Linked DNA regions of Homo sapiens: region 1 is linked to region 2. The links come from fine-mapping of genetic effects on gene expression. Tissue or cell type: whole blood. Region 2 holds a variant in brackets; the other region holds the start of a gene. All regions are shown on one strand. Distances are from middle to middle.

Region 1 (5,301 bases), 21 kb after region 2:
AATGAAGAGAAAACCTCCATTTTCCTAGTACAACTCCTTCCCTCAAGACACCCTCTATTCCAGTCTAGCCGCTCTTTCACCCATCTGCCTCCCACTCTTGTGTCCCCTGGTCTTCACTTACCCCCCAGAGCTTCATCTGTGCTTGGAACACACGGTTACCATCAAAGACAATGTGGACATGAAGCTGAGAGAAAAGAATTACAGGGGTAGTAACAAACCCAGAAGGTCAGAATAGGTCATTACGACAGATAACCAGGTCAGAGGTATGATCCACAGGTTGGCCAGACAGCCCTGACCTAATAACTCTCCTTTCCTCTAAGGGTACTATGGAGCCTACAGGTTAACAGCAAATGGCAACTCTGCCTGTGAGATTGTAGTATCACCCAATTGACTATCCTCCCATCCAACATCAGATCATTGCTCACCTCAGTTTGACTGGCCTTCACCCAGTTAAACGCAGGAAGTGGAATCTGGCCATATACAGTCACCACTACTAAGGAATCTGTCTGGTGCCAATCATGGCGGCAAGATGCTGGGAGCTAAAGAGAAGATGTGAAATGCAGGTGGTAAGAATAAATTCTTAACTGAAGGGGAGTTCTCATGATGCACGTGGAGAAGAGACAGAGAGTCTCAAAAAGATTAACACAACCTCATATTGCAAAACCTCTGGGCTGTTGAGGGATAAGGAGCAGAATCTTATTTGGTCTATACTAAAGGGAGAAGACAGGGAGCTTGGCTATGTGGTACAGAGAGGGAGGAGAATTTACCTCTGAGATTGGGTTCTAATCAAGAGTTCAGGAAAGCTGGGGCTTACCTGCTTCCCCCAGTCATGTCTACCGACTCTGCACCCTGGTTGTGCCAAGAATGCCCCAAAATCCAGGGTCTGGATGCCACAACAGCTCCAAGACTTCATCCTGAAGTAGGAAGATAATTCAACTGAATTCTCTCACCCCCAATATTATCTTATGACCAAATATTAGGAGAAACCTGTCTCATAGCCTCATAGCCCACCCAGTCCCCTCCCTCACCCCTCATGGAATCGGGGTGCTCCTGGGTGGTAGGTACATGGAGTAGCATCACTCTCAGGGCCTTGGTAAACCTAAGAAGGATAAAGTAGAACCAGGTCATTCTAAGGTATATCCTACTCAGCCTATCTATACCCAGTCATCCCTCAGCCATATGCTTGAGCCCCTCAAAACTCTCACTCACAGCATCACATCCTGGGTTCTGGCAGCTGGAACCAGTCCGGATCAGACTGTCAAGTCCTGGGCAAGGGAAACAGAGTCAGGAACTTATCCATCCCCCCACTCAATTGCCACTTCCACTAAATTCCAGTCTATGAAGTTGATCCTACTAAAGACCCACCTACCTGCCCCAGGTTCCTGGTCTAATTCCTTCTGTTCCAATGCCATTTCCAGGGCTTGGGATATATTTAGCGGCAGCAGCTTCAGAGGCAACTCTGACCTAGGGGTTAAGGGTGGTGATTTAGTTCTGACCCATTAGCTATGATTGCTAGCTCCAACACTCCCACCGATGGTAATGGAATTAAAGAAGCCTGGTGAAAGTGAGGCAGAGTTGGAGAGGTTGGGTAGCAACCCCATTGCCAATTTTCATCTCTGTGGACATCCCAAATACCTGAACCCTAGAGAAATCCCCAGCACTTCTCTTACCCATCTACTCAGTTGCTCTAAACCTAACCACTTTTCTCTGCAGAACTGAGTCATATCCTCTTCCTCTTTATCTAATCGTGGACCTAATATGACTTCCTTCTGTTGCTCTTATTATTCCCACAAAATTTGGGAAGTCTCCTGGCTGCCAATAATACAATACATCCTTTTCTTGATATGAGATTTATCTTAAAGTTCTTTTCTAGAAAGAGAAGTCATTCTCAACAATCCCTTTTGTGTTATACACTAAGGATGTATTTGTGAGGGGCTATCTACTCTGTTGATTCAGGTATCTATCCCATCATCCCACACCACCTTAGAGGAAAGGGCGTTATTTCCAGACACAAATTTCCCCTAAGGCACAGGATATACACCATCCAAACCCTGACATCTGGCCCTCCTCACATCCCTGGTCCCTAGTTCCCAGTCCTCAATGACCCATTAATCACTCCTAGGAAGCTACATGAAAATAAGAAAAGTCCAGGGGCCTCCTCCTCTTTACTTGGGCCTCTCCCGGCGCAAGGTCTCTGCTGACTTTGGAATCACATTCAGAGGTTTTTGCTCCTGAAGTGAACTGCTTGTAGCAGGGCCTTCAGGTTGAGGGGCCTCAGGAAGCTTCTCAGCACAGTGTGGTCCCATAGTACAGCCCTAGTATAGATAAGGAGATAGGATTAGGGATAGAATCCTTCTATTGGGGGCAGAATCCAAGTACATAAATAATTTACCTTGATGTTTAAGAACTCAGAGAAATCTACAGTTCGCTTTCGGCAGCAGGACCAACCCTGATAACAAGAGACCCAGATCAGCTTAGCTTCCTGGGTATTATCTCTTCTGGGAAATGCTCTTGCTAACCCCCCTCACCTACTCCTCACCTTAAGTGCATCATGGAAGATTGGGACCCCAGGGTGATGGCAACAGGAATCTGTGGACATCAGTAGAAGTTATCAAGGAAGGGAAGATAACTATACCAAGTATCATTTTTCACCTCTTCCCCGGGTTTCTATTTATGGTTTCTTCCCATATAATGTGAAGAAAAAAAAAAAAGCCAGCAAAGGCTGTAAGATCACTCAGACCAATTAAACTAGGGCAGGTAGTTTCTTTCCCCGCTCCTCAAACACACTGCCCCCCAGCTGACCAGTCCCCAACACCCACACAGAGCCCCTGGCCAGGTCAGGATTCTTTACTCACCAGGAAGGTTGGTATTAGGGTCAAAGTGCTGCCCACAGCCTTTGTTACGACAGAGTAGAGACATGGAAGCGTTGGTTGAATGATTACTGAAAGGGTATTTCAAGGAGTCTGGCTGCCGAATGGGGAACACCTCTTAGTCTGGAGGCTTTTAGCTGCCTGGAAGGGCCAGCTGTTTCTATCTTTAGTTCAGGAGGCGTACACCTCCTAACATGGGCAAGGGAACTTCAATTCGTCTTTCCAGCCAATAGGAAAGAGCTCGGGGGCATTTTAGCTCTGAGGCTCAGGAAAAAAGGATCAGGCAGAGTAGGGCTTTGAACTTGGGTGAGGTCAGCTCACCACTACTGAGACAGTTTTAGATTCACCACAGCAATTCCAAGCCTTGGACACAGCAGCAGCTGCTAAGAAACAAATACCAATTTTGAGACCCCCCCCGCGCCCCCAGCTCGATGAGGATTAAGCCCATTTTCTTCCTCTTTCAGAGGGGCAGCTTTCCTCCATCATTACTTCCATGTAGTATCAATAGCGCTAATCCTTGCCAACCCCTCCAGCCATTTGATGCACCTCATCCCCACCTCCTCCCCATGTTTGTCTAGATCAATACTGTAATCCAAAGGTCATAAAGGATTACCTTTATAGAGTCTACTGCTCATCTCCTAAGATAACTCCCCTCCCTCCTTTCCCCTTCAAAAACACCACAGAAAATTAAAAGGCTTAAAATGTATTTTAATAGGTTGATGCTGCATTACTGCTCCATTTTTCAGAAAAACTCCAAATATATGAGACAAATCAAACACAGTACACCAATGAAAAAAAAAATGCACAGCATGACTACCTAAGATAGGCGAGTCTAAGAGCTACTGTCAGACCTTCAGTATACAGTAACCCTGTTCCCAAGATTGTACTAGGCCTATCAAGAAAAGCTGTGAACAGCAACATCATAGACACAAAAGGGTCATTCCTGGGTGTCCTCACCCAAGAAAAAGATGGAGGCAAGTTAACACAAGATTTTTTTTTAAAGATACACTAAAATGAAAATCTCTAAGAGAAAATGTCTTCTTTAGGACATGAAGGGGTAATATATGGGGTATAACAGAACCGTATGTACGCTGCCTGTGACCTTTGTGGACGTTTGCCTGAATTCTCACCTGGGAGTGAATGGAGCAATGGGGCTAAGGTCATTGGGGGATGTTTGGTTTTTGTGGTGTATGTGGCAGTTTCTCTGGGGCTGGGGGAGTGTAAGGATAAGAAGCAAGTGAGGTTGGGCACGGTGGCTCACCCCTGTAATCCCAGCATTTTGGGAGGCCGAGGTGGGTAGATCACGAGGTCAGGAGTTCAAGATCAACCTGGACAAGCTTGAACCCGGGAGGCAGAGATTGCAGTGAGCCGAGATCATGCCACTACACTCCAGCCTGGGCGACAGAGTAAGACTCCGTCTCGGGGGCGGGGCAAGCAAATGAAACAAGATGGACAAAAAAAAAAAAAACCGGAATGATCAAGATTAATGGGCTCTAACTGGATCCACTTTGCCATGGTTTCCCCAGGCCCTCAACAGTCACATTAGAGACTTCAGGAATGCACCACACAGAACTGATTAAACAATATACCACACAGAATTGACTTGTTTAATACCACCCCTCCCTTGCCCTCTGCCTCCAGCATACTCCCTAGAGTAGTACAGGCAGGGTAGATCTAACTATTGGAAGGAATCCCTAACACTTTTCCAGGGTAGAATTCTGGCTAGTCCAAAAAGGGTCCTTCTTTTAAGGGTTTTGAGAAACTAGACACTGCAACTTATTAGTATCGGCGACGTTTGTTTGGGGCAAATTCAGCTCCAGGAGCTGCACGGTTGAATGCAGGAGGAGTTCCACCAATTGCCCCAATTCCTTCCATTGTAGCAGCCTGACCAAAGCGTTCAGTTGTTGGTGGGGTCTTAAAGAGAAAAAGAGAGCAACACTGTAACAGAGCCATTGTTGGAAGCTTCCCACCCATCTGTAGTCCCTCCACTGGAGGCTATTTCCATTCAACTATTCAAGGCTCCTGATGGTAGGTAGGAGTGGGTGACTAAGTCTGTTTAGAACTCTAGTGGATAACCCCAAAAGTGGTGGCGCATGCCTGTAATCCCAGCTACTCAGGAGGCTGAGGCAGGAGAATCGCTTGAACCTGGGAGGCGGAGGTTGCAGGGAGCCAAGATTGCACCACTGCACTCCAGCCTGGGCGACAAGAGCAAAACTCTGTCTCAAAAAGAAAAAGAAAAAAAGAAAAACAAAAACAGAAACAACCAAACTATCCAGTTTTGGCATTTTAACACCATAACCAAAACAACCCCAGGATTGCATGAGCCATGAAGTATTTGGATTCACAACTATTTTATGTGATAATGCCTAGCCTTCATTGACTTCCCTCCAACAAACATAGTCAATCAGACTGGCCAGTCAGACGGTGGCAT
Region 2 (5,374 bases):
GCCTCCTGAGTAGCTGGGATTACAGGCATGCACCACCATGCCTGGCTCATTTTGTATTTTTAGTAGAGACGGGGTTTCTCCATGTTGGTCAGGCTGGTCTCGAAATTCCAACCTCAGGTGATCTGCCCACCTTGGCCTCCCAAAGTGCTGGGATTACAGGCGTGAGCCATCACGCCCAGCCCTATTTATTTACAGACAGGTTCTCACTCTGTTGCCCAGACTGTAGTGCAGTGGTGCCATCTTGGCTCCCTACAGCTTCCATGCCCTGGGCTCAAGTGATCCTCCTGCCTCAGCCCCCTGAGTAGCTGGGACTACAGGTGCACACTATCATACCTGGCTAATTTTTGTATTTTTTTGTAGAGACAAGTTTTTGCCATGTTCCTCAGGCTGGTCTCAAACTCCTGGACTCAAGGGATCCTCCTGCCTCAGCCTCATAAAGTGTTGAAATTACAGGTGTGTGCTACCACACCTGGCCTTTTTTTTTTTTTTAATTTTAAAAAATAATGGCCAGAGGCGGTGGCTCACGTCTGTAATCCCAGCACTTTGGGAGGCCGAGGTAGGTGGATCACCTGAAGTCAAGAGTTCAAGACCAGCCTGGCCAACATGGTGAAACCCCATCTCTACTAAAAATACAAAAAATTAGCTGGGCATGGTGGCGGGCGCCTGTAATCCCAGCTACTCAGGAGGTTGAGGCAGGAGAATCACTTGAACCCAGGAGGCAGAGGTTGCAGTGAGCCAAGATCAGGCCACTGCACTCCAGCCTGGACAACAAGAGCGAAACTCCATCTCAAAAAAAAAAAAATCATTTTAGGCTGGGCATGGTGGCTCATGCCTGTAATCCCAGCACTTTGGGAGGCCAAGGTGGGCAGATCACTTGAGGTCAGGAGTTCAACACCAGCCTGGCCAACATGGTGAAACCCCATCTCTACTAAAAATACAAAAATTAGCCAGGCATGGTGGCACATGCCTGTAGTCCCAGGTACTTGGGAGGCTGAGGCAGAATTGCTTGAACCCGGGAGGCGGAGGTTGCAGTGAGCTGAGATCGCACCACTGAACTCCAGCCTGGGCGACAGAGCGATAATCCATCTCAAAACAAAACAAAACAAAACAAAACAAAACAAAAAGTTGTTAATGCTCACTACCTATATCTATTTGTTGAGAATTAAAAATTGTTATATTCTATTATTTTTCTTTTTATTCATTGGAATAGTTGTGTAACAACATGTCCTCTCATCTACTATTTTGTTACCCAGTTCACCTAGGAAAGGCAGGATAAATGTTTGATTTTTTTTCCCCTTCATTGACCAGTTTTCAAGATAATTAATCAGTTCCCATCATGAGAGATGATGTTTGAGCTAAGACCTGAATGAAGAGCCAGCTATTCAAATATCTGGAGGAAGAGGCCAGGGGTGGTGGCTCGTGCCTGTAATCCTAGCACTTTGGGAGGTGGGCAGATCGCTTGAGCTCAGGAGTTTGAGACCAGCCTGGGCAATGTGGCGAAACTCTGTCTCTACAAAAAATACAAAAATTAGCTGGGCATGGTGGTGCATGCCTATAGTCTCAGCTGCTTGGAGAGCTGAGGCGGGAGGATCGCTTGAACCTGGCAGTTTGAGACTGCAGTGAGCTGTGATCACACCACAGCACTCCAGCCGGGGCAACACAGTGAGACCCTGTCTCAAAAAAAAAAAAAAAAAAAACAGGCGCAGTGGCTCACGCCTGTAATCGCCTGTAATTCTAGCACCTTGGGAGCCTGAGGTGGGTGGATCATTTGAGGTTAGGCGCTCGAGACCTGCCTGGACAATATGGTGAAACCCTGTCTCTACTAAAAATACAAAAATTAGCTGGGTGTGGTGGCAGGCACCTGTAATCCCAGCTACTTGGGAGGATGAGGCAGGAGAATCACTTGAACCAGGGAGGTGGAGGTTGCAGTGAGCTGGGATTGTACCACTGCACTCCAGCCTGGGGGACAGAGCAAAACTCCTTCTCAAAAAAAAAAGATCTGGAGTAAGAGAATTCCAGCTGGAAGGCCGGGCACGGTGGCTCATGCCTATAATCCCAGCACTTTGGGAGGCCGAGGCGGGCAGATCACCTGAGATCAAGATTTCGAGACCAGCCTGACCAACATGGAGAAACTCTGTTTCTACTAAAAATACAAAATTAGTCGGGCATGGTGGTGCTTGCCTGTAATCCCAGCTACTCAGGAGGCTGAGACAGGAGAGTAGCTTGAACCCAGGAGGTGGAGGTTGCAGTGAGCCAAGATC[G/A]CACCATTGCACTCTAGCCTGGGCAACAAGAGCAAAACTCCATCTCAAAAAAAAAAATAGAGAATTCCAGCTGGGCGCAGTGGCTCACGACTGTAATCCCAACACTGAGAGGCTGAGGTAGGCAAATTGCTTGAGCCCAGGAGTTCCAAGACCAGCTTGGCCAACATGGCGAAACCATGTCTCTACAAAAAAATTAGCTGGGCATGGTGGCGTGCATCTGTGGTCTCAGCTACTTGGGAGGCTGAGGTGGGAGGATCACCTGTGTCCGGGAGGTGGAGGCTACAGTGAGCTAAGATCACCACTGCACTCCAGCCAGGGTAACAGAGCGCGAACCTGTCAAAAAAACAAAAAAAGAGAGAGAGAGAGAATTCCAGGCAGGAGTATCAGATAGTGCAGACGAACTGAGGAAGGAGTGAGCTGTATACGTTCAGGGAATACAGAAGACCAGCATGGCCACATTACTTTCACTCCTACCTTTGGAACTATCTCTTAAATCCATTACCCCCTGTTCCATTTTTCCTACCATACCGTTAATCTGGAGTCTCATCTTTCTCCCTTGGACCACTGCAATTACCTTCAACTCATTTCAGTGCCTCCAAGCTTCTCTCTCACCCTACCCAGTTAACCCCTTGGTCACTGAAAGCTTTTAACTCTGTATAGTTTCTTTGGTGAGAATGCATTTATAATTTTACAACAGATGTCACTGGCAAAATAAGATTCATTTAATAGAGGGGAGTGTTTGCTGAAAAAGTATTGCTGGACATCAAAGAATATAGGCTTTGAATTTCATGACATGCAGTAAAAAAAAAAAAAAAGAATATGGGTTTTGTAGTCAGACCTGGATTTAAGTCCCTGCTCTGACACTTGCCAGCTGTGTGACCTAAGGAAAATCATATAACATCCCAGGGATTGTTTCCTCATCTATTAAAAAAAATAGTAATAGGCCAGGCGTGGTGGCTCACGCCTGTAATCCCAGCACTTTGGGAGACTGAGGTAGGTGGATCACCTGAGGTCAGGAGTTCAAGACCAGCCTGGCCAACATGGGGAAACCCCATCTCTACTAAAAAATACAAAAATTAGCCAGTCATGGTGGCACATGCCTGTAGTTCCAGCTATTCGGGAGGCTGAGGCAGGAGAATTGCTTGAGCCCGGGAGTAGAGACTGCAGTGAGCTGATGTCATGCTACCACAATCCTGCCTGGGAGACAGAGCGAGACTCCCAGGCTATCCCGAGATATCTTACATTGATATAAGCCTTTTCCAAATAACTTTTATTTATTTATTTATTTATTGAGACGGAGTCTCACTCTGTTGCCCAGGCTGGAGTGCAGTGGTGCAATGATCGTGGCTCACTGCAACCTCCACGTCCTGGGTTCAAGTGATTCTCCTGCCTCAGCCTCCCGAGTAGCTGGAACCACAGGTGCATGCCACCACGTCTGGCTAATTTTTGTATTTTTAGTAGAGACGAGGTTTTGCCATGTTGGCCAGGCTGTTTTTGAACTCCTGACCTCAGGTGATCTGCCTGCTTCAGCCTCCCAAAGTGCTGGGATTATAGGTGTGAACCACCACACTGGGCCCCAAATAACTTTTGCATCTCTGATCACCTGCTCTCTAACCTCACTGAGATGCCTAGGTAATCCACCTCTCAATTCATCCAGATGAAGTAATTATCTCCCAGTTGTAGTAGTTTTCTCTCCTACACTCCATGAACTGCCACTCCAATGTTACTGTCTCTGAGACCTCTGCCTCCATTATCCTCTTTCTTCCTTTCTGCTCCCAAAGTCCCAGAAACTGCTAGAGGGAGAACGAAGTAGACAAATATAAATTCATGCTGTCCAATTTCAACTTGGCCCTTGCAGCTGCTCAGCAACCCTTTTATTTGTCTCATACATTCCCTGGCACTCTCCCACAGAGGCTGTTCCAGACCTTCCTCTTTCTCTTCAAACTACAAATTCCAGTCTCCCTCCTTCTACTTCTAAAAACTTCATATTAGACAGTTTCATTACATTAACTATCCCTCCTGCAACAAATCAGTATCTTTCTCCCTCCCAGCTCAATCCTCTAGACATCCAGTTCCATTCCTGGGAAAGCAATAAATGTTATTTATCTCTTATTTATCTTTCCAGAGATATTTTATGACTCTATAAGCAAAAATATGGAAAAGAAGGAATTTGCACTGCCTGTTAAAGATAAGTAGGATTGGGCGGGTGTGGTGGCTCAAACCTGTAATTCCAGCACTTTGGGAAGCCAAGGTGGGAGGATCACTTGAGCTCAGGAGTTCAAGATAAGCCTGGACAACATGGCAAGACCACGTCTCTATAAAAATTAAAAATTAGGCCGGGCGTGGTGGCTCACATCTGTAATCCCAGCACTTTTGGAGGCCCAGGCAGGTGGATCGCGAGGTCAGGAGATTGAGACATCCTGGCTAACATGGTGAAACTCTGTCTCTACTAAAAATACAAAAAAATTAGTCGGGCGTGGTGGCGGGCGCCTGTAGTCCCAGCTACTGGGGAGGCTGAGGCAGGAGAATTGCTTGAACCCGGGAGGCAGAGCTTCCAGTGAGCTGAGATCGTGCCACTGCACTCCAGCCTGGGTGACAGAGCAAGATTCCGCCTCAAAAAAAAAAAAAAAAAAAATTAAAAATTAGCCAGGCCTGGTGGCACAAGCCTGTGGTCCCAGCTACTTGGGAGGCTGAGCTGAGAGGATCACTTGAGTCCAGGAGGTCGAGGTTGCAGTGAGCCATGATCCTACCATTACCCTCCAGCTTGGGCAACAGAGGAAGATCCTATCTCAAAAAAAAATTACAAAAATAAATTTTACAACAGATAAGTAGGATTTGGAGGCCAGGTGGAGTGGCTCTAGCCTGTAATCCCAGCACTTTGGGAGGCTAAGATGGGAGAATCGCTTGAGTCTAGGAGTTTGAGACCAGCGTGGACAACATAGTAAGACCTTGTCTCTACAAAAAATTTAAAAATTAGTTGGGCATGGTGGTGCATGCCTGTAGTACCAGGTACCCAAGAGGCTGAGATGGGAGGATCACTTGAGCCCAGGAGGTTGAGGCTGTGGTGAGCCATGGTCACGCCACTGCACTCCAGCCTGGATGACAGAGCAGAC

The links. PIP is the estimated chance that this variant, and not a neighbour inherited with it, causes the effect.
Region 1: ITGB1BP2 starts here. The variant in region 2 is the best candidate, but not a certain one, in a credible set for the expression of ITGB1BP2 in whole blood (TOPMed, PIP 0.62).

The regions. Positions count from the first base shown.
Region 1 is chrX:71,299,425-71,304,725 of GRCh38, reverse strand. It overlaps ITGB1BP2 (integrin subunit beta 1 binding protein 2), which reads right to left and starts at 2,976. Exons shown (of 11, transcript NM_012278.4): 1 at 2,856-2,976; 2 at 2,540-2,589; 3 at 2,393-2,449; 4 at 2,170-2,315; 5 at 1,370-1,464; 6 at 1,210-1,265; 7 at 1,029-1,099; 8 at 815-914; 9 at 426-539; 10 at 122-184. The coding sequence starts at 2,919. It overlaps NONO (non-POU domain containing octamer binding), which reads right to left. Exons shown (of 12, transcript NM_007363.5): 12 at 3,558-4,784. The coding sequence ends at 4,650. RefSeq lists an enhancer at 1-1,178.
Region 2 is chrX:71,320,888-71,326,261 of GRCh38, reverse strand. No RefSeq gene overlaps it. Among named protein-coding and RNA genes, the nearest start is that of ITGB1BP2, 22 kb to the right of the region's middle. The variant G/A (reference allele first, on the strand shown) is at 2,262.